4 linked regions of the Homo sapiens genome follow. The protein of the gene in region 4 interacts with the protein of the main gene of each other region in a pairwise test. Each region holds a gene or a part of one and is shown on either strand. Other genes may lie near its edges.

Evidence for each region.
Region 1: the proteins of CNKSR3 (region 4) and JRK interact in binary tests that used the Homo sapiens proteins (3 or more experiments, as listed by UniProt).
Region 2: the proteins of CNKSR3 (region 4) and N4BP3 interact in binary tests that used the Homo sapiens proteins (3 or more experiments, as listed by UniProt).
Region 3: the proteins of CNKSR3 (region 4) and NMI interact in binary tests that used the Homo sapiens proteins (3 or more experiments, as listed by UniProt).

The regions. Positions count from the first base shown.
Region 1 is NC_000008.11:142,666,964-142,674,569, reverse strand, and holds the start of JRK (jerky protein homolog), read left to right. Parts: upstream 1-4,602; 5' UTR 4,603-4,638; intron 4,639-4,890; exon of another isoform or gene 4,891-6,354; intron 6,355-6,360; exon of another isoform or gene 6,361-7,525; intron 7,526-7,606. UniProt on the Homo sapiens protein: May bind DNA.
Region 2 is NC_000005.10:178,116,511-178,123,546, forward strand, and holds part of N4BP3 (NEDD4-binding protein 3), read left to right. Parts: exon of another isoform or gene 1-3,043; 5' UTR 3,044-3,073; coding exon 3,074-3,403; intron 3,404-3,667; coding exon 3,668-4,189; intron 4,190-4,587; coding exon 4,588-4,842; intron 4,843-4,963; coding exon 4,964-5,491; 3' UTR 5,492-7,036.
Region 3 is NC_000002.12:151,269,950-151,272,684, forward strand, and holds the end of NMI (N-myc-interactor), read right to left. Parts: intron 1,784-2,735; coding exon 1,677-1,783; intron 927-1,676; coding exon 744-926; 3' UTR 521-743; downstream 1-520. UniProt on the Homo sapiens protein: Acts as a signaling pathway regulator involved in innate immune system response.
Region 4 is NC_000006.12:154,500,669-154,507,704, forward strand, and holds part of CNKSR3 (connector enhancer of kinase suppressor of ras 3), read right to left. Parts: intron 1-7,036. UniProt on the Homo sapiens protein: Involved in transepithelial sodium transport. Regulates aldosterone-induced and epithelial sodium channel (ENaC)-mediated sodium transport through regulation of ENaC cell surface expression.

The sequences.
Region 1 (7,606 bases), on a different chromosome or scaffold from region 4:
GTTAATCTCCAAACTGCCCTTAGTCATTTCTGGGCATAACAGCCCTTTTCCAAAACTCAGCCATCTTTGTAAAGCTAACGAAAGGCCACCACTGCATGAGGAAGATGAGGGGATCTGCGCTCTGCTGAGGTTAGACTGAAATGATTCCCAGCCGTTATTCATTAGGAAGATGGGGGATCTGAGCTCTGCTGAGGTTAGACTGAAACGATTCCCAGCCGTTATTCATTAGGAAGATGAGGGGAGTCTGAGCTCTGCTGAGGTTAGACTGAAACGATTCCCAGCCGTTATTCATTAGGAAGATGGGGGATCTGAGCTCTGCTGAGGTTAGACTGAAACGATTCCCAGCCGTTATTCATTAGGAAGATGGGGGATCTGAGCTCTGCAGAGGTTAGACTGAAACGATTCCCAGCCGTTATTCATTAGGAAGATGGGGGATCTGAGCTCTGCTGAGGTTAGACTGAAACGATTCCCAGCCGTTATTCATTAGGAAGATGAGGGGATCTGAGCTCTGCTGAGGTTAGACTGAAACGATTCCCAGCCGTTATTCATTAGGAAGATGGGTGATCTGCGCTCTGCTGAGGTTAGACTGAAACGATTCCCAGCCGTTATTCATTAGGAAGATGAGGGGATCTGAGCTCTGCTGAGGTTAGACTGAAACGACTCCCAGCCGTTATTCCAGGGACCACAAGATTTGCAACTCCCCCAATTACTCCTGCAAGTAACATCACTATTGTGATCCTAAGATTGGCCTTGTGAGATGTCGTTTCAGGTTTTTGCACGTCTAATGACTGATGGATGGCTCTAGCGAGGCCCACCAACCCCGCAGCCGGTCCTGTGGCCCCACCTGGACGCAAACTCAGTGCACAGGAGGACCATTTTCCACATCCCCAGCCAACCAGCAGCACCCATTCCCTGGCCCACCAGACTCTCCTTGAAAAACCCTAGCGTCCGAATTTTCTGAGAGGCTGATTTGAGTGATGATAAAACTCTGGTCTCCCGTTCAGCTGGCTCTGCATGAATTAAACTCTTTCTCTATGGCAATTCCCCTGTCTTGCTAAATCAGCTCTATCTTGCCAGGGGTCAAAATGAACCCACTGGGTGATTACACGCTAGTGTATTTTCTTCCTCTCTTTCTGACCCCTCCCAGTGTCAGAATGGACTTGGTCCTCGAGAAGAGGCCCAAGGTTCCGTGAGTAATGGTAGGAGCACCTGGAGGAGCCCCATGCATCTTGGGATGAGGCCCCAGTTTCATGCCAATCCCCACTGCCCACCAGCACTGTCCAAGTCCTGGGAGACCACGTGATCCCATGTCCCTGAGGTGGCAGTTAAAAATAGGAGTTAAAAATAAATTATTTAGGCAGATAGTGAGGGTAAGGAAGTCCTCAGTAAGGTTTTCCTTTTAATGAAAAGCAGGCTCCAAATCATTTTCTTTTCTAACAAAGAGCAGCCTGTAAAATCGAGCCGCAAACATAAGACAAGCAAGCTGGAAGCTTGCACGCGTGAATGCCAGCAGTTGTGCCAATGGGAAAAAGCTACCTGAGACTAGGCATGATCAAAATGGCAGCTCCATCTTCCCTTCTCTTTGCCAGCCATGTGTACAGCAAGGAGCAGACAAGATGGTGCTGGCCAAGTAGAAGCCCATTTGCATAATAAGATTAGGGTGGGGCGACCAGCCTTCCCCACGCCATATGTAAACATCACCCTTGGTCATACCAATCTGTGGGCCCTTTGTAAATCAGACACTGCCTCCTCAAGCCTGCCTATAAAATCTGCTGGGGTCTGCTGCAGGCTGGCTTTTCTCTTTTGGACGCCTCTTTCGAAAGAGAGGGCTGCTCTCTTCTCTCCTTTCTTCTGTCTATTAAACTTTCTGCTCCTTAACCCATCTACATGAGTCCATGTCCTTAATCTTCTTGGTGTGAGACAATGAACCCCAGGTATTTACCCCAATGATGCTGCTTCAGCAGCAGAGTCGCACCAGGGATGGAGCCAGCCTTCCGGGGGAGGGAGGACTTTGCTGTCCCAGGAGACCCTGCCATGGGAGCCCCAGTCCAGGGACCTTGGGTTCCAGTCCTGCCATGTGCCTGGTATGCTCCGTGACTCAGCCTCCTCTGTGAAACACATCTGACTCTAGCATGGCCAAATTCCTGCCCCACAGAATCATCTGCAATAAAAACAGTTGGTTTCAAGCTGCTAAGTTTTGGGCGGTTTTTGATGCAGCAGTTGATAGCTGTATGGGGGTAAGGGCAGAAACAGAGACTGGGGAGGAGGCAAGACCACAGAGGTGTGGATTGGGGAGGGCAGTTGGAGGGAGTGAGAAGAGGCCAAACACTGGCTGGATTTTGAGGGTAGAGGATCTGGATATGAGGGATGGAGACTGTTGAGGCTGAGCCTGAGTGAATAGCAAGGTGAGCTGCCGTTCATGAAGGTGGGGGCAATGCAGATGGAGCAAGGCTGGGCTGGAGGATCAAAGCTAAGCAGAGACATTGGCTAGCACATAGGAGTCTGGATTTCTGGGGAGGGGCCCTGGCAGGAGACATGAATTTGGTCGTTGCCAGTGTTGGATGGTATTTAACGGCATGACACTGGAGGAGATCACCCAGGGAGTGGGGACTGGTTGAACAAAAAGAGCCAAAGAATGGCCTGGTCAGTAAGGAACCAGCAAGGGAGGGTGAGGAAGAGAAGAACCAGAGGGTGGGAGGGTGCTGGGAGCCCAGGTAACAACGGACCTAAGGATGAGTGAGCTGGCACATGGGCTCGTGCCTGGAATCCCAGCATTTTGGGATCGCTTGAGTCCACGAGCTCGAGACCAGCCTAGGCAACACAGCTAGACCTCGTTTCCACAAAAAATTAAAAAGATAGGTGAGACAGTGCATGCTTGTAGTCCCAGCTACTCTGGGGGTTGAGGCAGGAGGATCCCTTGAGCCCAGGAGGTTGAAGCTGCGGTGAGGAGAATGTACCACTGCACTCCAGCCTGGGCAACAGAGTGAGACCCTACCTCAAAAAAGGAAAAAGGAGGAGTGAGCTACCCAAATCTGTATTTGTTTATTATTGCTGTCCTAACAAATTACCATAAACGTGGTGATCCAAAACAATACAAATTTATATCTTACAGCTCTGGGTTCAGAAGTCTAATGGCACAATGAGTGTCATGGGCTAAGATCAAGGGGTCAGCAGGCTGCATTCCTTCTGCTGGCTCCAGGAGAGGCCCTGTTTCCTTGTCTCTCCCAGCCACTAGAAGCCGCTCATAGTCCTTGGCTTGTGGCCCCTTCCTCCATCTTCAAAGCACATCACTCCAACCCCTGTGTCTGTTGTCACATTTCCTTTTCTCTCCTCTTTCATCCCATTGTCCTCTCACTTGGCTTCCTAACTCCCACAAGAACCCCTGATATGGCACCTGCCCTCCTATCTGAACCCGTGGGCTCTGCATCCAGATGGAACCAACCGAGGATACAAACAATTCGGAAAAAAACCTGTGTCTGTACTGAACATGTACAAATTTTTCTCTTGTCACTATTCCCTAAACAATACTGTATAACAACTATCTACATAGCGCTTACATTGTATTAGGTATTATAAGTAATCTAGAAGTGACTTAACGTATACGGGAAGATGTGTGTAGGTTATATGCAAATACGAAGCCATTTTATGTAAGGGATTTGAGCATCAAGGATTTTAGCATCCTTGAGAAGTGCTGGAACCAATCCTCTATGGATACCCAGGGACGACTGCACATTGGGCTCACCCTGATAAACATAAGAATCTCTCCACCTAAAGAATCTTAACTTCATTGCATTTGCAGTCCCTTTTGCCATGTAAGTAATGTATTCACAAGACCTGGAAGTTAGGATGTGGACATCCTTGGAGGGCCATTATTCTGCCCACCACAGTCCACCCTCCAGTTTCCAAAATTTGCATAGGTCCCATGGGCAAAATCCACGCACCCATCTCAAGGTCCTCCACAGCCTCAACTCATTACAGCACCAACTCAGGTCCATACTCACTTAAGTCGCACCCAGTTCAAAAGTTTCAAATCCCATCGTCTGAATCATCTAAATTGGGTATGGATTGGACCCCAGCTAAGTAAGGGGGTCAAGCAGGCGGGCTGAGCACTGGTCCTGGTGACCGGAAGGCAGCACTGCCCTCCCCGCATCAGAAACTGCACCGGGAAGACCGTCCTGGGCTGATCGGCACGAAACCCTGGGCGCCTGTGGCTGCCCCAGAACTGCAGGAGCCCCAACGCCTTCAGCGCAGGGTTCACTGTCATGAAAGGAATGTGACGCCCTGCGCCCATTCTACAGATGGAGAGAGCAGGGCGGAGCCCGGGGCCCAGGCCGCGCGCCCCGCCTTCGCCCCGTTTCCCCTCTCCCCTCCCTGCCCGCGCCTTCTCCCCTCCCACGCCTCCCCCCACCCTGGGACCCCCCCACTCCTCTCCTCCAGGCCTCCTCTCCTCCCACGCCCTCCGCGGCCACCCAGCTCTTTGAAAGCCTGCGTCTGGCTCCCAGACACCACCGAGTGCTGAGTCCTCCAGCCTGTCTAGAGCGTCCCGGAAGTAGCTGGGGGAAGGCGACGAGGCGCGGACTGGAGGAGAACCGAGTGGCCGGCACTTCCGGCCGGCGGCGGCTGCTCCGGGTGAGCAGGGTGAGTAGGGTCCTGGCCTGAGGCGCTGGGCGGCCGGGCCGGGCCGGATGGGTGCGGGCGCTCTCCGGTCCCTGGTGGGCGCGGGCGGCGCGGGCGGGAGCCGCAGTCTGGGCAGGCGGGCGCGCGGGGCGGGGCGGGGTTGGTCGCGAGGCTGCGGGGCCGGACCCAGCCGCGGGCGGCAGCGCCCCCTCCCGGGAGCCGCGCTCGGAACCCGAAGCCCTGTGCTTCCCGCGCGACCCCCGCGGCCTGAGCGCGCGGCCCCCGAGCCGCACCCACCCCTTGCCGCCAGGCCTGGCCTTGACGCCCCAGCCCGGACCCTTCCTGCGCTTCCACTCTCAGAGAGGCTTGGTCACGAGGTCCGCTTGCCCTTAAAAAACCAGACCGAGACTTTTTTTTCTCCATTTCTGTTTTTGTTCTTGTTCTTGTCCCAGACTGAATTTCTACCCACAAACGGGGACCCTGGGGTACGGACGCTTTTTAAGCGAGCCTCGCCAGTAGCCCAGCGCTGTCTCTGCGCCAGGATCCCCCAGCGTGGAGGGCTCCTAGCGGAACTCGGCGCCGGCTCTCGGGCGCTCTCTGCGGGGCGCACGGCCCCAGGCTTTCTGTCCCCTCCTTCTCTGTCCCATACTCTCCTTCTGACCCCCAGCTCACCTCTTCCCCCAGCTCCAGAATGCGACTTGTTTTTTGAGTATTTCTCCTTCATATCCTCCATACCCCCCAACACACACACGCACACACACACACACACACACACACACACACACACACTATGCCCCTGCGAAGGTTGTTTCCCGCTTTCCCCCCGCGTTTCTCAGGGCCTCTTAGCCTCACACAGGACGGAGTCAGCCCCAGCGCTGGCCCCTCAGGCCTCCCGTTTCTTGTCTGTGCCTTGGGCACAGGAGAATTGCACGTTTCATCCCGTGTTCACGTGGCCTTGGGGATCAGTGCTTCCTCTCCAGTCGCAAGGCAAGAAACCACCCTAATTTCGGGGAGACAGGGAATCCCACAGTAGCTTGTGAGGGGCTGACTGGGGACTGGGATGCCGGGAAAAGCGTCCTGGAGGAGACTCAGCACCAGACACGGGCTCCTTGTGGACACGTCTCCATGCCTGACGTGCAGGTGTGGCAGGATGACACAAACTGGCAGAACACACTGTTGTCCCACTTGCAAGACCAAAAACTTCCTTTAAAAATAAAATTCAGATATTCCTTATGAAACAAGTTCAGCCACTTTGTGTCATCCTGCTACACCTGCATGTCAGGCATGGAGACGTGTCCGCGAGGAGCTGTGTCTGGTGTTGAGTCTCCTCCAGGAAGCTTTTCTCTGCATCCCAGTCCCCAGTTAGTCCCTCATAAGCTACTGTGGGATTCCGTGTCTCCCCCAGTTTTTCTACAGCGGGTTCATATTAAAAATCTGGAGGGTGGTTTGTGGCCTTGCCTTCCCTCCTGTTCCCCATGGTGAGATGCACATAGCTCACTGTGCTGTGCCAGACCGCACACACGTCACACCGTCACCCTCAGCGAACAATGCAGGATCCTTAAGGGACCAGCCCACATTTTGCAGACCAGGAAACTGACTCCGGAAGAGGACAGTACTCACCCAGAGGTGGCAGCCAACAAGCCTATAATTTTTCTTTGGAGCTTTTGCTGCATTTGATTGCACTCCTCCTTTCCCTTGAGCTCTGGCCTCAAAGGGCTGCGTTTCTGCGCTCCACATGTAAGTAGGCCTTTGGCCACACGCTCTGCATGGAGTTGGCAGAAGCAGCTATGGTAAGGACGCGGGAGGGAGGTGGGAACTCCAGGAGTCCATCCTCAAGTACTGCTGGCCTGCGGAGGAGTGAGGGCAGGGAGACCCCTGCCCATAGCACGCACGCCACACTGAGGCGGCCAGCTGAGCTGCCCGGTGTTTGGGCAAACAGCTTTTCAGCCCTCACCACCCTCAGCAGTGTCTTAACTGGGTGAAGTGCATTGCAGGCCCTGACTCCATAGGCTGCCCTGGCCTCACAGGGGTGCGCCCTCTGTGCCCTGCCAGTCGGCTCGGGTGTAGGGAGGGTTGTGGGGTGTTTCGCAGAGTTGTTATGAGAGGGTGAAATTGTCCACCTAGAAGGGATGAGAATGACCCGCATTGTCTTTATATAGGAGAAGGGTGAGAAGTTAGTTCAAAACTCCAACAGAAAGATGTGTTTGGTTAGAGCTGTGACATTTCTATGTCATTTTTCTTCCTATTGGTCAAAGGTGTGTGTGAAACTTAAAAGCAAGCTTTTCGTAGGGTGCACAGCTGGCCCAGGAAGAACCCTTGCTCCCAGGGGGCTATCAGGTTTCCTGGCATTTGCTTCTGGCGTAAATTAGTCATTTGTTCATAGAGCCTCCCAAATTAGCAAATGCTAAAGAAGTTCCTGCTCTGGGCTAGCTTGTTCCTGTGTCCTCTGAGCGTGTATGTGTGAGTGAGGTTGGGTGGCTGTGTGTGTGTGTGTGTGTGTGTGTGTGTGTGTGTGTGTGTCTCCGTGTCCGTCCATGTCTGGCAGGCTCTGCGGCCCTGCCGTGGTTGTGGAGCCAGGTGGGCGGGCAGCACTAGAGCCTGGGGTTTCAGAGACCAGCGGCTCAGTGTGGCTGCCTGGGGCAGGGTACCCTGAGCTGAGCTTGAGGGGTCCCCTCTGGAAGAGGCCTGGAATGGTCACAGCTGTCTGTCTGCTGCGGCTCCTTGTAGACGCATCTGAGTGTGTGGCAGTCAGGGAGGTCAGAGGGTGATTGAGAAACTGGCAGCACCTCCTAGCCCTTGGAGGAGCTTGAGGCCTGCTGTTCTAGAGAAACTTCTAATGCCTTGTTTTCTAGAGGCAGTTTGGCGCTCTGTGTCGGAGAGAGGAGTTTAGAGACCTGCTCCAGATGGGGTTTGTAAGATCTTTGGCGGGGAGGGTAGTGAGGAGTTCCTCCTCCCTGCATCCCTCCACCCCTGCCTCTGCTCCTCAGGG
Region 2 (7,036 bases), on a different chromosome or scaffold from region 4:
CACTGGGCTGCTCCTGCTTTGTCAGTGTGTCCTGTGGGTGACCTTGTGCACAGCTGTATGATTGTGTTTGCTGCTGGACGTGACCGTCTGCACCGTGTCCTCTAACATGGGCTCTCTGTGCTGCTGGGTGGGGCTGACATGTGGCACACCGTGGCGTGTGTGGTTGTATGCGCTGTTGCGGCCGGTGGCTACCTCTAGCTCAGGGACTTTCCCTGGACCTGCGATGCCTCGTGGGGAACCTGGGGGTCGGTTATCTCCTCGAGACAGGAAGTGAGCATCTGCCCACCGGAAGCTGAGGCGGTGTGCATTTGGGGTGAGGTGGGCGTATTTGGCACTGCTGCCAACGTCCCCGCCCCCAGGGCCACACAGGGCTTACATTTCATAAGCCCTTTCCCCTCCATCTCTGACTGTCAGTAATCCTTTGAGGAAAGCCGGGCAGGCGGGGTCTTTCCCACTTCATTTTTTTTTCCTTTTTAAAAATAAATAGAGATGGGGTCTCGCTATGTTGCTAAGGGTGGTTTCAAACTCCTGGGGTCAAGTGATCCTCCTGCCTCAGCCTCCCAAAGTGCTGGGATTACAGGTGTGAGCCACCATGCCTGGCCCTTTCCCGCTTCAGAGATGCAGAAACTGAGGCATGGCAAAAGGCGGAGCATTTGTGTCTGGGGTCCCCTGGAGAGAGTGAGGGCAGGCTGGAGAGCAGGTCTCTGCTGTCCCCTCCCCAAGAAGCAGCAACAGGAGTTGAGCGTGCTTGTGGACAAACCACATCTCTGGCTGGATGGGCTTGTCGTGGCAAGGAGGTATCAGATGAGGAGGCAGGATGCTTCCATTCTAATACTTTTGGCTGTAGGGACCAATCCTAGGTCCCACTAGACATTGGGCAGCCATGACCAGCTACGACCTTGGGCAAGTCACTTCACCTTTCTGAGCCCCACTGACCTTTAAGAAGGGTCAATAGCTGGGCACAGTGTCACGCACCTGTGTTTTTAGCTACTCAGGAGGCTGAAGTGGGAAGATGGCTTGATCCTAGGAGTTCGAGGCTGCAGTGGGCCATGGTTGCACTACTGTAGTCCAGCCTGGGTGACAGAGTGAAGAGCAAGACCCTGTCTCAAAAAAAAAAAAAAAAAAAAAGAAGGGACAATAACTCTGTCACAGGACTCAGCAGGACCCGTATGCAGGGCCAAGTCGCTGTAGGAACCCATCCCCTGTGATTCCTTACCTGGATGCATCTCCTATGTAGCCTGCAACGTGCGTTCTCAGGGGCTGGGCTGGGTGGGGTGTGCAAACCCGGATTCGCCCCATCCTGGGTTTGGGGGTTGGTTGGGGGAGAGCTGAGGTCATTTTTGCACAGGGTGAGGTGAGGCTGTGGGGTTGGGGCAGGTCCCCCTCCCGGAGAGCTTTGTCTTCCACAAACACAAAACCTGGAAATGGTTGAGGAAGATGGAACCTCCTAACGACCATTGTTCGGGGGCAGGAGTGGGTGCCCGGAAGCATGGGTGGTAGTAGGGGACCCACAGCTGCAGCTGGCCTGCTGGGCTTCTGTTCGAGAATGGGAGCAGCTGCTCAGGGGTGGGAGGCAGAGAAGGTGGCATTTGTTCACTCGGCCAGACCTTTCTGCACGCCCGCTCCATGCTGGGCACTGGGCTGTGCAGAGGATCCCCAGGGGACTAGGTACCAGCCCTGCCTCCAGAGTGTGTGGCCCAGCACAGGTGGAAGGTGGTCCGTCAGCCTAGTCCCTTGGTGATGTTTGTGTGCCTGGCTGAGCTCGGCTCCAGCCAGCCTGTTGACCCTGGCTGTGGCCCAGGCCCTGAACTGGGTGCTCTGTCATGTTATCCCACCCCATCCTCCCAGCATCCCAGTGATAAGTGTTATTGTCGCCAGGGTGTGTGTGCGGAAGTCCAGGCTCACTGAGGTTAGTGGCTTGGCCGGGGTCACACACCGATTGGTTCCGCCAGGGTTAGGATTTGGGACCCACCCTGCCGGGTGGTGGGCTTTGGAATAAGAGCATATACAGGGGCTGGAGTGAGTCCAGCTGCCCCTTCCCTCCTCCACCCACCACTGCCCAGACGGGAACACCTGTCCCGGAAACTGTGGCCATTGTTCACGTCATCCTTCCTCCTTTTGGGCCCTTCCTGTTTGTATCCCTCCCACTGTAGCCCCCAACCCTCCCCCCCATGCCAGATGTTTCCCTTGGGGAGCTTTGCCCTTTGCAGGAAGAGGGCCTGCAGGGGTTACCCCTCTCCCATGGGAAGGAGGGTCTCACTGGCCTTGGGTCTCTGTGCCTTCTCCCCACCCCACAGATTTGGTGGGGAACATGGCAGGAGGGTAAGCAAGGTCAGGTTCAGCCAGGCTGAGTTTTCTTTTTTTTTTTTTTTTGAGATGGAGTCTCCCTCTGTCGCCCATGCTGGAGTGCAGTGGTGCGATCTCGGCTCACTGCAAGCTCTGCCTCCCAGGTTCATGCCATTCTCCAGCCTCAGCCTCCCGAGTAGCTGGGACTACAGGCGCCCACCACCATGCCCGGCTAGTTTTTGTATTTTTAGTAGAGATGGGGTTTCACAGTGTTAGCCAGGATGGTCTGCGTTTCCTGACCTTGTGATCTGCCTGCCTTAGCCTCCCAAAGTGCTGGGATTACAGGCGTGAGCCACCGCGCCCGGCCAAGTTTGTCTTCCTTAGCCCTGTGCGGGCCCAGTGCTGGGAGGACGGCTCCTGTCCTGCTGCTTCCAGGCCTATCCCCTCCCGGTACTTCTGAATCCCACACAGGCCCCGAGGTGGAGCTGGCCCTTCGGTGCTCGGCTGGGGCACCATTGCTCTTCCTTAGACTCAGTCCAGCAAGTGACAGATGGGCAGGTGGCTTTGGGGCTTGTACTTCTTTCTCTTGCCAGTCTAGGGATCCTGTCCCGGGGTTCTCTCTTGGACCCACATCTGCCTTACCTGGGCCTGGGCAAGGTTGTGGGGAGCTACAGGGAGCAAGTACCTTGTTTTCAGGCCCCAGGGAAGTTGGGCAGCCAGTGCTCACCTGCCCCTAATGGAGCCTCCCAATTCCCAGAAGCAGCTGCCTGTACCCTGTTGAAACTTCATGGCCACAGCCCCAGGCCCTGCTGGCATTGCCATGGGCAGCGTGGGCAGCCTGTTGGAACGGCAGGACTTCTCCCCTGAAGAGCTGCGGGCGGCACTTGCCGGGTCTCGGGGCTCCCGCCAGCCTGATGGGCTCCTCCGGAAGGGCTTGGGCCAGCGTGAGTTCCTCAGCTACCTGCACCTCCCCAAGAAGGACAGCAAGAGCACCAAGAACACCAAGCGGGCCCCTCGGAACGAGCCTGCCGACTATGCCACCCTCTACTACCGGGAACATTCTCGCGCGGGTGACTTCAGCAAGACCTCGCTGCCAGAACGGGGTCGCTTTGACAAGGTGCACCTTTGCCCATGCCCCTTACAAGGTGTGGGGAGGGTGGGGTCTCCTTGGAGACCCTGATGTTGGGATGGGGTGGGGACGGGGCATGCTGAGATACGAAAATCGTGCTATGGGCTGGCCTGAGGTTTGTTCACTGCCTCCTGGTGGCACGTGCCCCGCGGTCTCAAAGAGGATCCCTCAGGGGCTGTGAGAGCATCAGGAGGTAGAGCAGGCAGCTGCCCAGGTCTCACACCTGCCCTCTCTGCCCTCTCTTCCTGGCAGTGCCGCATTCGCCCCTCAGTGTTCAAGCCTACGGCGGGCAACGGGAAAGGCTTCCTATCCATGCAAAGTCTGGCGTCCCACAAAGGCCAGAAGCTGTGGCGCAGCAATGGCAGCCTGCACACGCTGGCCTGCCACCCGCCCCTGAGCCCCGGGCCCCGGGCCAGCCAGGCCCGGGCACAGCTGCTGCACGCCCTCAGCCTAGATGAGGGCGGCCCTGAGCCCGAGCCCAGCCTGTCCGACTCCTCCAGTGGGGGTAGTTTTGGTCGCAGTCCTGGTACTGGCCCTAGCCCCTTCAGCTCCTCCCTTGGCCACCTTAACCACCTCGGGGGCTCCCTGGACCGGGCCTCTCAAGGACCCAAGGAGGCTGGGCCACCAGCTGTGCTGAGCTGCCTGCCCGAGCCACCACCCCCCTACGAGTTCTCCTGCTCCTCTGCCGAGGAAATGGGAGCCGTGCTGCCCGAGACCTGTGAGGAGCTCAAGAGGGGCCTTGGCGATGAGGACGGCTCCAACCCCTTCACGCAGGTGAGGGAGCCCCTGCCCTGGAGTCCTGTTCTGTGCCTCAGCACTGGGGTACAGGCCAGAGAGAGGGGCCCCAGCCAGTTCACCCACGTGGCCGTGGACACAAGAGAGCAAGAAAGGGGGAGCTGGCTTGGCTTCCTTCCTCTGCATCCCAGGTGGTGGGGATGTCATGTCACTGGGGGTCCTTGCCTGGGAGTTGTGTGGGAAGGAGAGAGGCTCCCTGGGAGGGCCATGTGATGGGGACACCTCACCCTGGAGGGCATCCCGGGTTAAAGCGCATGTGTGGCTGGGTCCTGTGGTGTAGGGGCACAGGATATGATCAGTGGCTGGAGTATCAGGTGGAGCTCTGAGTCGCCTCTAGGGGGCAGGGCCACGGTGGATGCATCTCTTCCCCTTGACAGGTGCTGGAGGAGCGCCAGCGGCTGTGGCTGGCTGAGCTGAAGCGCCTGTATGTGGAGCGGCTGCACGAGGTGACCCAGAAGGCTGAGCGCAGCGAGCGCAACCTCCAGCTGCAGCTGTTTATGGCTCAGCAGGAGCAGCGGCGCCTGCGCAAGGAGCTGCGGGCTCAGCAGGGCCTGGCTCCGGAGCCTCGGGCCCCCGGCACCCTCCCAGAGGCTGACCCCAGTGCACGACCAGAGGAGGAAGCCCGATGGGAGGTGAGAGATGACACAGGGCTCCGAGACTCTCCCATCTCCATTGCCGGTCCCTTCTTCTGCCTGCCCCCTCCCAAACCGGCTCCCCACACCCTACTTTGCTTGCGTCCTCCCCATCCCCCAGGTGTGCCAGAAGACAGCAGAGATTAGCCTCTTGAAGCAGCAGCTGCGTGAAGCCCAGGCGGAACTGGCCCAGAAGCTGGCGGAGATCTTCAGTCTGAAGACACAACTTCGGGGCAGCCGGGCACAAGCCCAGGCTCAGGACGCAGAGCTGGTCCGGCTGCGCGAGGCTGTGCGCAGCCTGCAGGAGCAGGCCCCTCGGGAGGAAGCCCCAGGCAGCTGTGAGACTGATGACTGCAAGAGCAGGGGCCTGCTAGGGGAGGCAGGAGGCAGCGAGGCCAGAGACAGTGCTGAGCAGCTGCGGGCTGAGCTGCTGCAGGAGCGACTTCGGGGCCAGGAGCAGGCGCTGCGCTTTGAGCAGGAGCGGCGGACTTGGCAGGAGGAGAAGGAGCGCGTGCTGCGCTACCAGCGGGAGATCCAGGGAGGGTACATGGACATGTACCGCCGCAACCAGGCACTGGAGCAGGAACTGCGGGCACTGCGGGAGCCCCCCACACCCTGGAGTCCCCGGCTCGAGTCCTCCAAGATCTGAGGCCAGCAGAGCGAGCTGACAGCAGCAACACTGTCAGAAGGTGCCCTGAGACGGCCGGCTCAGCCTTCCCTTGCACTGGTTGGGGTGGAACCTGCAGAGGCCAGCCCGGGGCTGGGGAGGCGCAAGGAGAGGAGGGATCCAGTGGGGCCGTGGGCTGGGTAGGGTGCCTTGGCAGGAGCCAGGACAAGGCCCTCCTGGCAGAGGAGCACCTAGGCAGGGCCCAGCCCTGCTTCCTGGAGTGGATGTGGCCCAGAGAAGGAGGCTGGGGGATCACCAGCCCCAAGGTCCCGAAGGGCAGGTCAGAGGGAGAGAGGCTGGAGACCTGGGCTGGGGCCTTCCTCCAGGGAAGGAGGCTGGGGTGGGAACACTGGCCTCCCCCAGAATAAAACCATGTTTTCTACCAGAGGCTCAGAATACGCTGAGCCTGTGACCAGAGGATGATGGATGGTCGGGATTGAGGCTGTTGACCTGGGCAGTAGCTCCTCCCATGGCCAGTGGTCAGTGGGAGGGTGTGCCCTGCGCCTGTCTGCATGGCCACTGGGCATGTGTGTTGGGAGCAGAGGAGTCCTACTCCTTGCCTCAGCCCCACACGGTTCCTTAGCTGCCGTGTGGGCTGAAATTCCTTTCTTTAGCACCAGTGGAGTTTTCAGAAGGAACAACACCAGGGAATGCCAAAAAAACAAAGGGCAAGTCAACCAAGGCATTTTGAGAACATGAAATGTCTTCTTGGTGGGAAGGCTGGGCCCCAGGAGTATCCACAGGCTCAGGCCATGCCCCTCCCCGCACCCACCTCCTGTCTCCCTCCCTCCCTCCATAGGAGTGGGGGGCCCCTAGAAGTGCTCTGCCTCATTCCCTGTTCGTAGGAAGGTGCAGGAGAGGAGGTGGGCAAGCTTATGGGTTTCTTGGTAAAGAGCCTTTACCACAGCAAGGAATGGGAACATTTCCCCATCAGCAACGGGGCTCTAGGGCATTATTAAGTAGGGGTGAAATATGATTGATTTGCATTCTGGAAAGCTCTCCCAGGAGGAAGCATTCCCCACCCCACCTTGCCTCTGTCCTGCGCTGGGCTCCAGGACGGTCAGTCCTCCCGGATCCCTGCTCTCAGCTAAGGCTGGTCCCTAAAACCCACACCTGCCTTTGGTCTCTCAGAGGCCTGGCTTGCCCTCTGGGCCTTTGCTCCCCCGCTGGGTGCCCGGCCTGGAACACAGGTTCTGTCTGGCTGTGTGAGTGGCGTCTCTCCCTTCCTTTGAGGGAAGCTCAGCTTTCTTACGCGCTCATCGTTGGACGGGCTGCCATGCATTGCGTGCTTACTGGGCGCCAGGTGCTGTGCTGGGCCCTTGTGAGTGTGGGGGCACAGGCTGAATTAGATGAGCTCCTGCCGCAGGGGGCCCTGCACACTGATGTCAGCTCACCAGTCTCTTCCCTGACAGGGCAGCTCAGGGAACTTCTGAGAAGTTATCTGCAGAGAGCCCCACCTCACTCCCTTTGGCTACCCTGGCCGTGCCTGGCAGCCCCTCAGGCCCCACAGGTGGGTCCTGGTTGTGA
Region 3 (2,735 bases), on a different chromosome or scaffold from region 4:
TACCTCCAGTCATTCCCCAGCATCGAGCATGATAAGTGATGAGTCACTAACTTTGTATTTACCTCTCTCTCCATGCCAAGGTTTTCAAACTCTTATACCAATTGTTTCCATTGTAAGTGCAAAAGAAAGAAAAAGCTAGTCCTTTACGAGCTCTATTTGGAGAGGGGATGGCTTGGAAGGAATCAAGGGACACTTGGCACTTGGGTGAACAGAAATTCAAGAAAAAGATCACACTCAGCTCTGAGAACCTTTAGAGTTGTGGAGTGAAATGCTATGCACAGTGGTAAATGGTTGCTCTTGAAGTCCTTCGAATCTTCAGTTGAGTTTACAGGAATCACCAACTGCTGAATGTAACTGCCTTTGTTTTGGAAAATGTTAAGAGTCAAGTCTGCATATTGGTGGGCATGGGGCCACAACTGAATTGGCCCACAAGACCATAACAGGATGAGCCAGCACTGGCAGGGGACATCTGAATCACTTAAGGTTGATTTCAGCAGACATGGCACCAATACACATAATCTATAAACAAAACTTTTTATTACAGTGCACTTATTGTAGTTGAAAACATGCAGCACCATTTGAAACAAAGAAGATTCAGAAACATGGAAATAAGTTTTGTATCTAAACATAAATGGATGGTAAAAATTAAAGTTTTCATTTTTTAAGGAAAAGCATATTCATTTTTGTCAAACATTTACAGTAATCCGGGTTAAAAAGCTATAGTTTTCATGATTCTGTTAAGTCTATTCTTCAAAGTATGCTATGTGAGGTTGACCTAGAGAACACTTGACCACATCTACTTCTCCACCTCCATTCTTTGCCCGTTGAAAGTGAATGTTAATTAAATCCTCCACAATTTCTTCATCCATTTGAATGCCTTCCATTCCTGTCAGAAGCACTGTCCTCTTAGATGTTCCTGAAAATATCTAAGAAGGAAAAAATGATAAATAGAAAGATTTCTAAGAGCTTTGAATTACAAAACTTTACATTCATAATCTCTGCTTAATATTTTTTATTTTATCTTAGAAGAGACAAGAAATCTTAGGAAGATTTTCCAAGCAAGAGAATATCCAAGTCAGATCTGAGTTTTAGAAAGAGAACTCTGGTGGCATTATGGAACACAGAGGAAAGGAGGGATGCTCTGGGAACAGAAAGACCAGGTAAAGAGGTAGTCAGAAGTGGAGCTGGCAAGATTTAGTGACCAAATGAATGTTGGAGGTGAAGCAAACTGAAGAGTTAAGTATGAGTTCTAGCTTTTAAGTTGGTGGAGTAGGTAGATGGTGGTACCATTGGATACCTGAGAAGGAAGAGGAAAAGGGAGCAGGTCTGGGGTAAAGATAATGAGTTCAGAGAAAGTAGGCAGGAATTCTTTCTCATGCTCACTGACAGTAGACATATGAGAGAAATGCAACTATGTCTCCATGTACAAAAATAAAAATTGTGCCATTATCTGAGTAATTTCAGTTTTAAAAATTGTATAATAAAGTACAGTTTTGCATTAAAATGCTCCTTCAAAAGACAAACTCATTTTGCACCAAGCAAAAATGAAGTAAAGAAACCATTTTGCTATCCCTCATTGATAAGATGCATAAGTAACAGACTCACAACAACTTTATTTTTTGTGGGGTGGGTTTGGGCAGTGAGTTCTGAAAATGAGAGAACAGAGATGACTTTACCTGATACTTTTTCAAGTGTATTTCTGTGTATGGAGAAACAGTAACTCTATGGCAGGTTTGATTTATATAAAGAGGGTATTCTTTCTTTTTCAAAATCTTGTCAGCCACTAAAAGCAAAACAAAAACAATACTTGTCTTTTTTATATCATAAGCATTTTTAACCAAAGTTAAAACTTCCTTCAAAGAGAACACTATTACAGTAAATATTGAGTTAAAAGATTAATTTTTAAGAAATTCTAAAGCCCACTTTGAAGACTTCACAGTACATAATTTTGAAAACTACAAGACCAAACAATAATGAGGTTTAAAGCCTTCATTCCATCTTGAATTATTCACTGCAGTCAATCAATGCACAAAGGGTTGCAATGTCCTCAGACAGATCTACTTTGAGCTATAAAAAATACCATAGTCTTTTGCAGAAAGTAACCCACTCATCTAACAAGACTGGACTGTTTCCCAGTTTCTCAAAAGCTGTAAGTGAAAACTATGATTAGAATACTATATACATTTTTTTCAATATATTCAATAAACTGAAGTAATGATGTTAACCAAAGCAGGGAGGGGATTGAATGTCATCTAGAAAAACTGAAAGGAAATAAAAATTCATCAGTTTTCTACAACACAAAGAATAGTCTATTTTTTAGCAGTATTTTTTTCTCCTAGAGTGGTGAAAGGATGTGTGTCAAGACTGTAACATTTAACAAAAACAGTTCTTGGGAATATACAACCATGTTTTTTATGACTCTTCTCACTCATCTACCTTGGATCAGCAATATGGTACAATGATTAAGAGTGTAGGCCCTCATTGGCGAGAATATGGAGAAATTGAAACCCTGAGGCAATGCTGATAGAAATGTAAAATGGTACAGCCACTGTAGAAAACAGTATGACAGTTCCCCAAAATATTAAAATAGAACATGATATGATCCAGCAATTCAACTTCTGGGTATATACCCGAAACAACTGAAAGCAGGGACTCGGACAGATACTTGCTCGTTAATGCTCAGAGCAGTATTTTTCACAATAGGCAAAAGGTGGAAGCAACCCAAGCATCCACCA
Region 4 (7,036 bases):
TATAGTTTCTAAAGCAAACATTAGGATAGTCTTTCAGTAGGGCAAAATATTTTAAGTCAGATACACCAGTTTCTTTACTCAAATACTTTAAAAGTTTTCACATAGAAAGCTTTCTAATTTCTACATCTTATTGATTCGCATTCTAAGGAACTGCTTTGCTTTAATAAACAACCATATTTGCCCTTCTGATCCCAGGTTTAAAAATGTTCAATCAGCCATTTGATGTCAAAGAAAACAAAGTAGGCTAAGTCCAATTTCACAAAAACTCTATTCATAGATGAATAAACAGCTTCAGAAACTAGCCGCAGCAAAAAGTGCCAGAAAATAACAATGATGTGAACAAGGCAGAAAGACAGAGGGCGCTCTCTATTCTAAATGACCATCATACTTGGCCAGAGAGGAGCCAGGGGCAGAGGAGAGCATCTACCTTAGCCCTGGCAGGAGGGGAAAGAATGAGCAGACATCCCAACTTCAAATATAATGTTTACATTACTGAGATTGGAAGCTGTCAATGACCCAACTGTAACTAGAACTTGGCTTCACAAAGGCTGAAACTGCCAACACCTGAATCCAAGACACCATCGCCTCCAGAATACTGCAATGCCTTCCAGCTGGATTTCCTGAATTCATTTCTGCTCAAAAACCCTGACTGATCTTTCAACACACAGATCAAATACTGTCACTCTCTGCTTTCCACCGTAACTATTAAAAAATAAAAATAAAAAATTGCACCTCCCTGACCACGACTTGTAAGAACCTACATGATCTGGCCTCTGTGTGTCTCTCTCACCTGCTCTTCACCCATCACCCCCACCCTCGCTCTCATGACCCCACCACAACTTCCTTTTCTCAAACTCTCCAAGCCGGTTCGCACCTCAGGGCCTTTGCATGAGTTATTCCCTCTCCTAGAATGCCCTTCTCCCTAATTTTCTGATGGCTGGTTCCTTCCTACCATTCATGCCTAAATGTCACCTCTGAAAGGCTTTCTGATGACGTCATCCAAAGGAGTCCCCCACCCAGTCCCTCTCCTTCACCTCTCTGCTTTATTTTCTGATTTATGCTTATCAGTAGAAATTTTCTTATCATCTGTTTTGTGGTTGGTGGTGGCGTTTGTCACCCACACATCTACCACACTAAAGCCGGGACTATGGATTCCCAGCACTTAGAACAATACCTAAAACCGAGAAGATTCCCCTAAGAACAGGGGGAAAGCGTCCAAGGAAACAATGAGAAGACCGAAGACGGACTTGATTTAACTTACCTCCTGTATAACAACAAAAGGGTGAATGGAATTGTCATAAATTATTAATAAGCACATGAAGGGTGACAATCAGCCACAACAATATTAAACATTTAAATAAAAATATCCCAATTACACCACCAGTTAACTTGAGTTATTATTGATCATGAATAATAAGTGGGTAAACACATACGCCATACGTTATGCAAGGGGCTTTCCCTGTATTTCCTCTTTTAATTCCACACATATGCCATACGTTATGCAAAGGGCTTTCCCTATATTTCTTCTTTTTTTTTTTTTGAGATGGAGTTTTGCTCTTGTCGCCCAGGTTGGAGTGCAGTGGCACGATCTCAGCTCACTGCAACCTCTGCCTCCCGGGTTCAAGAGATTCTCCTGCCTCAGTCTCCTGAGTAGCTGGGATTACAGGTGCCCACCACCATGCCCAGCTAATTTTTTTTTTTTTTTTTTAGTAGAGACGGGGTTTCACCATGTTGGCCAGGCTGGTCTCAAACTCCTGACCTCAGGTGATCCACCCACCTCGGCCTCCCAAAGTGCTGGGATTACAGGCGTGAGCCACCACACCCAGCCTCCCACACTTGTTGGTTAGGAAGGAACTAGAAGGCACCACCTGGATAGAGCAGAAACCAGGGACGGGACAGGACCACAGAACAGAAGCCTGTGAGGCCTGGTCCCAGCTCCTCACCTCTGGACCTTGGACAATTCATTTCACTTCCAAAAGCCTCCTCCATGCTGCTCATCTGCAGTGGAAACTGCCTTCCTGTGCATCTCCAGGCTTCAGAAGAGTCAAATGAGAACAAATGCAGAAGTGCCCTCAGAGCTCATGAAAATAACATCTGATTTTTTCACTTAAAGCTTACATAATGGGTAAGCCAGTGATGACACGCCAGAAATAGCATAAATGAGAGGAAAGAGAGAAAGCAAGGCAAGAACGCTCAGGTCCGGGAGCTAGAAGACAACACGCTGGGTGAAAAGAGAGGCAGTGACACAGGCATGGGGACACAGACGGGAGGGCCCCTCTCGCTTCCTCACAATAAGGGGAATGCACGAAGGAGCCGGAGCAGGAGTTGTCACTTGCCAATCTCCATGGATAAAGGATGGAGCTACCCCAGTCTCAGCGCAACTCATATATTTGTGCCAAGTTTTTAGAACTGCCATGGTTATTTATTCCTGAAATGACATTTGGTGTCATTTCCCATCAACAATAAAATCTCCACCAAAAGTCAGTTAAGTGTGGTAAACCCCGTGTGGTCACCAACTATAGGATAGTGTGACTAGCCAAAAGCCCATCTCATCCTCCTAGGTCCTACTGAGGATCCTGAGAACAAACTTCAACCACAGTGACCACTGACCACCCCACAACTCCCTTCTTACTACTTGTGTTAAAGATTTTTTTTTAAAGGGGGGCAGGGGTTGGTCCTGAGCATGGTGGCTCCCATCTGTAATTCCAACACTTTGGGAGACCGAGCCGGGAGGATCACTGCAGACCAGGAGTTCCAGACCAGCCTGGGCAATACCACAAGACCCATCTCTACAAAGATTTTTTTTTTAATTAGCCAGGTGTAGTGGCATGTGCCTGTGGTCCCAGCTACTTGGGAGGATGACACAGGATGATCACTCAAGCCTCAAGCCCTGGAGTTTGAGGCTAAAATGAGCTATGATCGTACCACTGCTTTCTAACCTGGGCAAGAGAGCAAGACCCTGCCTCTTATTTAAAAAAAAAAAAAAGGCTGTTATAAGAACTCTTCAAGGAATAAGGAAGAAATCTCAAGGGAAATGTCTCACTTATTTTGCTAAGAATTGCCTGATGCTGTTGCTAGGTGGTGCTTATAAATATAAGCACACACCGTAAGACTGGTTTTTTACTTTAATTAGTGGCAAAGACAAGCCTTCTCAAATTAAGTGTCATCATTCCAGAATGTAAATAAAACAGCTGGAGTACATACCAGACCAGATAGCCCAATACTACAATAGCAGGACTCTAGCAAAGTTTGAAAACACATTTGCAGCTACGTGCTAGAACAGTGCTTCTCTAATTGTGATGGGTGCACGAATCGCCAGGGGATCTTATTAAAATGCAGATTCTGATTCGGCAGGCCCAAGCTTCTGCATCTCTAACAAGCTCCCAGGTGATGCTGAAGTTGCTGGTCACAGACCAGGTACCAGACAGGGGCCAACAGTTGACAGCAAAAACCATCCTATGCCATGCTCACTGCAAGCCCAGGTACTATTTTTTAAAAGTGAGGAAATATGGCTCAAACTAATTTACCCAAGGAAAGCTCACGAAATTTGCAAGAGGCATTTATCACTCCGCTAATCAAGAACCTTCCTGATCAGCTGCAAGTTCTGCCCCGGATCCTCTGACCAGCTGGTAAACGGCAGAGAAATCTCTTTGACACTGACAGGTGCCCCTGGATGATAAGAATACACCTTATGAAAGACTTCACTGCTCAGAGAAAACAGTTTGTGTCCTGGAGCTATAGGAAAAAGGAAGAGAGAAAGCAATAAAAACAAGGAGTAGAAATGTATGGAGAGCTTACATAAGATCACACAGTCAAAAGCAGAACTGGGATACAAACTGAGTCCGGCTCCAGAGCCCATGCTCTGAACCATTCAGCTCCACCCCCTGGTACAAGTAATCAAAGTGACAAAGTGATGGAGTACAGGAGAGCCCCAAGGAGACCACAACTACTAATTAGGGGACCCTGAGCAAATTCTCTCTCTGCTTCAGTTTCTTTAATATGGGCTGGAAATTATTCAAACACCTCACTGGGTTTTCTAAGGATGAAATCAAAGAGGCTGGACAGGTGCAATGTCTCACATTTGTAATCCCAGCACTCTGGGAGGCCGAGGTGGGAGGATCACTTGAGCTCAGGACAAGATCAGCCTGGGCAACAGAGTGAGACCCCATCTCTGTATTAAAAAATAATAAGTAAAGAAGTTTTATAATGAGAGAGCCTAAATAAACACTTAGAACAGCGTCTGCCAAGATAATAAGTGCATCAATCAATGTTTTTCTGTTATTAAGAGAATTTTATCACTGGAGTGCAGGAGAGTGAATGGAACCAAGGAGAGGGTGGAATGAAGAGCTTTTCTGAACTATGGCCAAATGGTAGACCTACGGCTGCTAAAACAAAAAGGCCTCCCTTTCCCAGGGACCACAGAGACTAAAAGAGAAGGTATAACCTAAACTGGAATCAAGGTAACAGAAAGAACTGCCTCTGTCTGGACGGTGGCAGGAAGGGCCTAACAGTGCAAGGTAGTACATTGCAGTTGACCTGTGATGTATCAGATCTCTGTAGTTAACTTGGAAATTCCAGACTTTCCATGGCCAAATAGTCAAGCACCTTAAGACTGCTATGTGTCATAAACAAATAGACACGACAGGGAAAGAGCAAGTCCCGTGGCTTAGACCTTGAGCAAGAAAGCCCCCTTTTCTCTTGGTTGGTGATGGGGACTGCTACCAACACTAGCAGCACCAGAAGCTGGCCAGAGAGACTTCTGTCCTGGGACCAAAGGTGGGTTTTAGAGATGTGCTGACTCAACTACACAATTTTATTATTATTATTATTTTTTTTTTTTTTTTTTTGAGACAGAGTCTCACTCTGTCGCCTAGGCTGGAGTGCAGTGGCACGATCTCGGCTCACTGCAGCCTCCGCCTCCCGGGTTCATGCCATTCTCCTGCCTCAGCCTCCCGAGTAGCTGGGACTACAGGCGCCCACCACCACACCCGGCTAATTTTTTTTGTATTTTTTAGTAGAGATGGGGTTTCACCATGTTGGTCAGGATGGTCTCGATCTCCTGACCTTGTGATCCGCCCACCTCGGCCTCCCAAAGTGCTGGGATTACAGGCGTGAGCCACCGCGCCTGGCCAACTACACAATTGTTGAGAGCCTACCCACTCGAGGCTGATCAACAGCCAAGGCTAGGACAGTTCTGCTGGGACAACCAGTCCCACGTCTTCCTCGTCGAAGGCACTCCCCAGTGGCCTTTTTAAAGCAGAAAAACGACTTGTGGTAGCTGCATTTGACAATGAAATTTCTCATATTTAAATCAAGCTTAGAGAAAAGGACCTCATATAAGTTCAGATTTTGACCTAAGAAGGTTGGACAGGAATGAAGATATAATGCTTTTTCTAAAACAGGGCTGGATATAAGTAGGGAATGTGGCACATGTGTACTCTGAGAACTGAGCTATGAAAATCAGTGCATGTAAATCCCTGTTGCCTGCCTACCAATATCTATTCTCCCCTTTTTCCTTTCTGACCAAACTCCAAGTTTTTTTCAGGGCCACAATGTACCAAACTTAAAAAAAAAGAAAGGAAGGGAAAAAGCAAAAAAGGAAGAAGAAATGAAAAGGAAAAGAAAGGAAAAGAGAGGAAAGGGGAGGAAGGAGGTAGTGAGGGAGGGAGGAAAGAGAAAGAAGAAAAGAAACAAAAGAAGGAAAAAGAAAGAAATTACAGCAACCAGCCTTCCCTGCTGCATGAGGTGGCCATGTGACATTTCTGGCACCTGAGATGTAAACCAGGTCACTTGACAGTTTTTCAAAGAACTCTTTAAAGGGGAAGACTTGGCTGCTACCTGTCTTCTGTCTTCCATGAGACTCCCTTCTGCCTGGAATAGGAAGACAATCATGCAGGAGCCGCCACCTTGCACTGAAGCATTAAGTATGAAAATGAACACCATGTGCCAGGCCATACCCTACGCCATGTGCTACGAATGGCTGAACAAGATGGCAGCGCCATGGAACCCCAATTTGGTTAACCCACTGGGTTTTCTGTTATGTGCGGCTAACCCTACACGTTGTAAAAGATCATTTGCTTTGCAAAGGCCTTTACTGAACTGACTGGCAAGGCGCCATGAACTAGGAATTAATTTGACTTACAAATAACTTTCTGACATGAACTAAAGATAGAGAATAACACAGACATATACTGGATGAGACTCCTCCGCTACCATATGCTATTCAGACCGAATCCTGAAGTTCTATTCATAAATGTAAAGATTGTCGGTGTGGTCTAGATGTGGCCTTGGGAAGAAACTCCTGAGAAAATGGAGTGGAGTGAAGCCAAACCACCTGCTCTGCTGGGTGACATCGGTCAATCTGTGTGTGACTCGGTTTCCTCAACTGCAAAATGGAAATAACTGTTCCTACCTCAAAGGTGGTGGTGCCTATTAAATGAGCTGATATTTGTACAATGCTTAGACATGTGCCTGACACACTGCTTAATAATTACTGAGGATCCACTAACATTACGGTAAAATTGGTGACAGTGTAGCTAAACATTAATAATAAAAGCCAGACAGGTTAATTCATTCTGTAGACAAGAACTTCTTTCCTAAGGCACACATCTGTCAAATAACAAGGAGGTGAGATCCAGCTGTCGACTGTGGCCAGGTTTAGACAGTTTTAAATCTAAGGCCTTCTATGGTTCTCATAATCGCCCTACCCAGATTCATGCAATACCAAGAGTAGCAAAGTCTACATGAAGAGCTGCTTATCAGTAGCATGTATTTATAAAATAAAGGTTGGGTAAAGAGATTAGCAAAGAGCACTAAAAATAGTCCTATAAGCAGACGAGCTTTTGTAAGTCGATAGTTCATTAAAAAGTCAATACTTGAGCATCATTATTATGAGAAATATTCAAGTAATGGGTCACGCAACTTGGAAGATTGCAGCCTCTTATCATCTTAGCCATCTTTTTTAGATTCGAACACAGAACGTATCCAGGTCTTTCTACTAAGCTGTATTTCAGGGTCCAAAAGGGCACAGGCATTT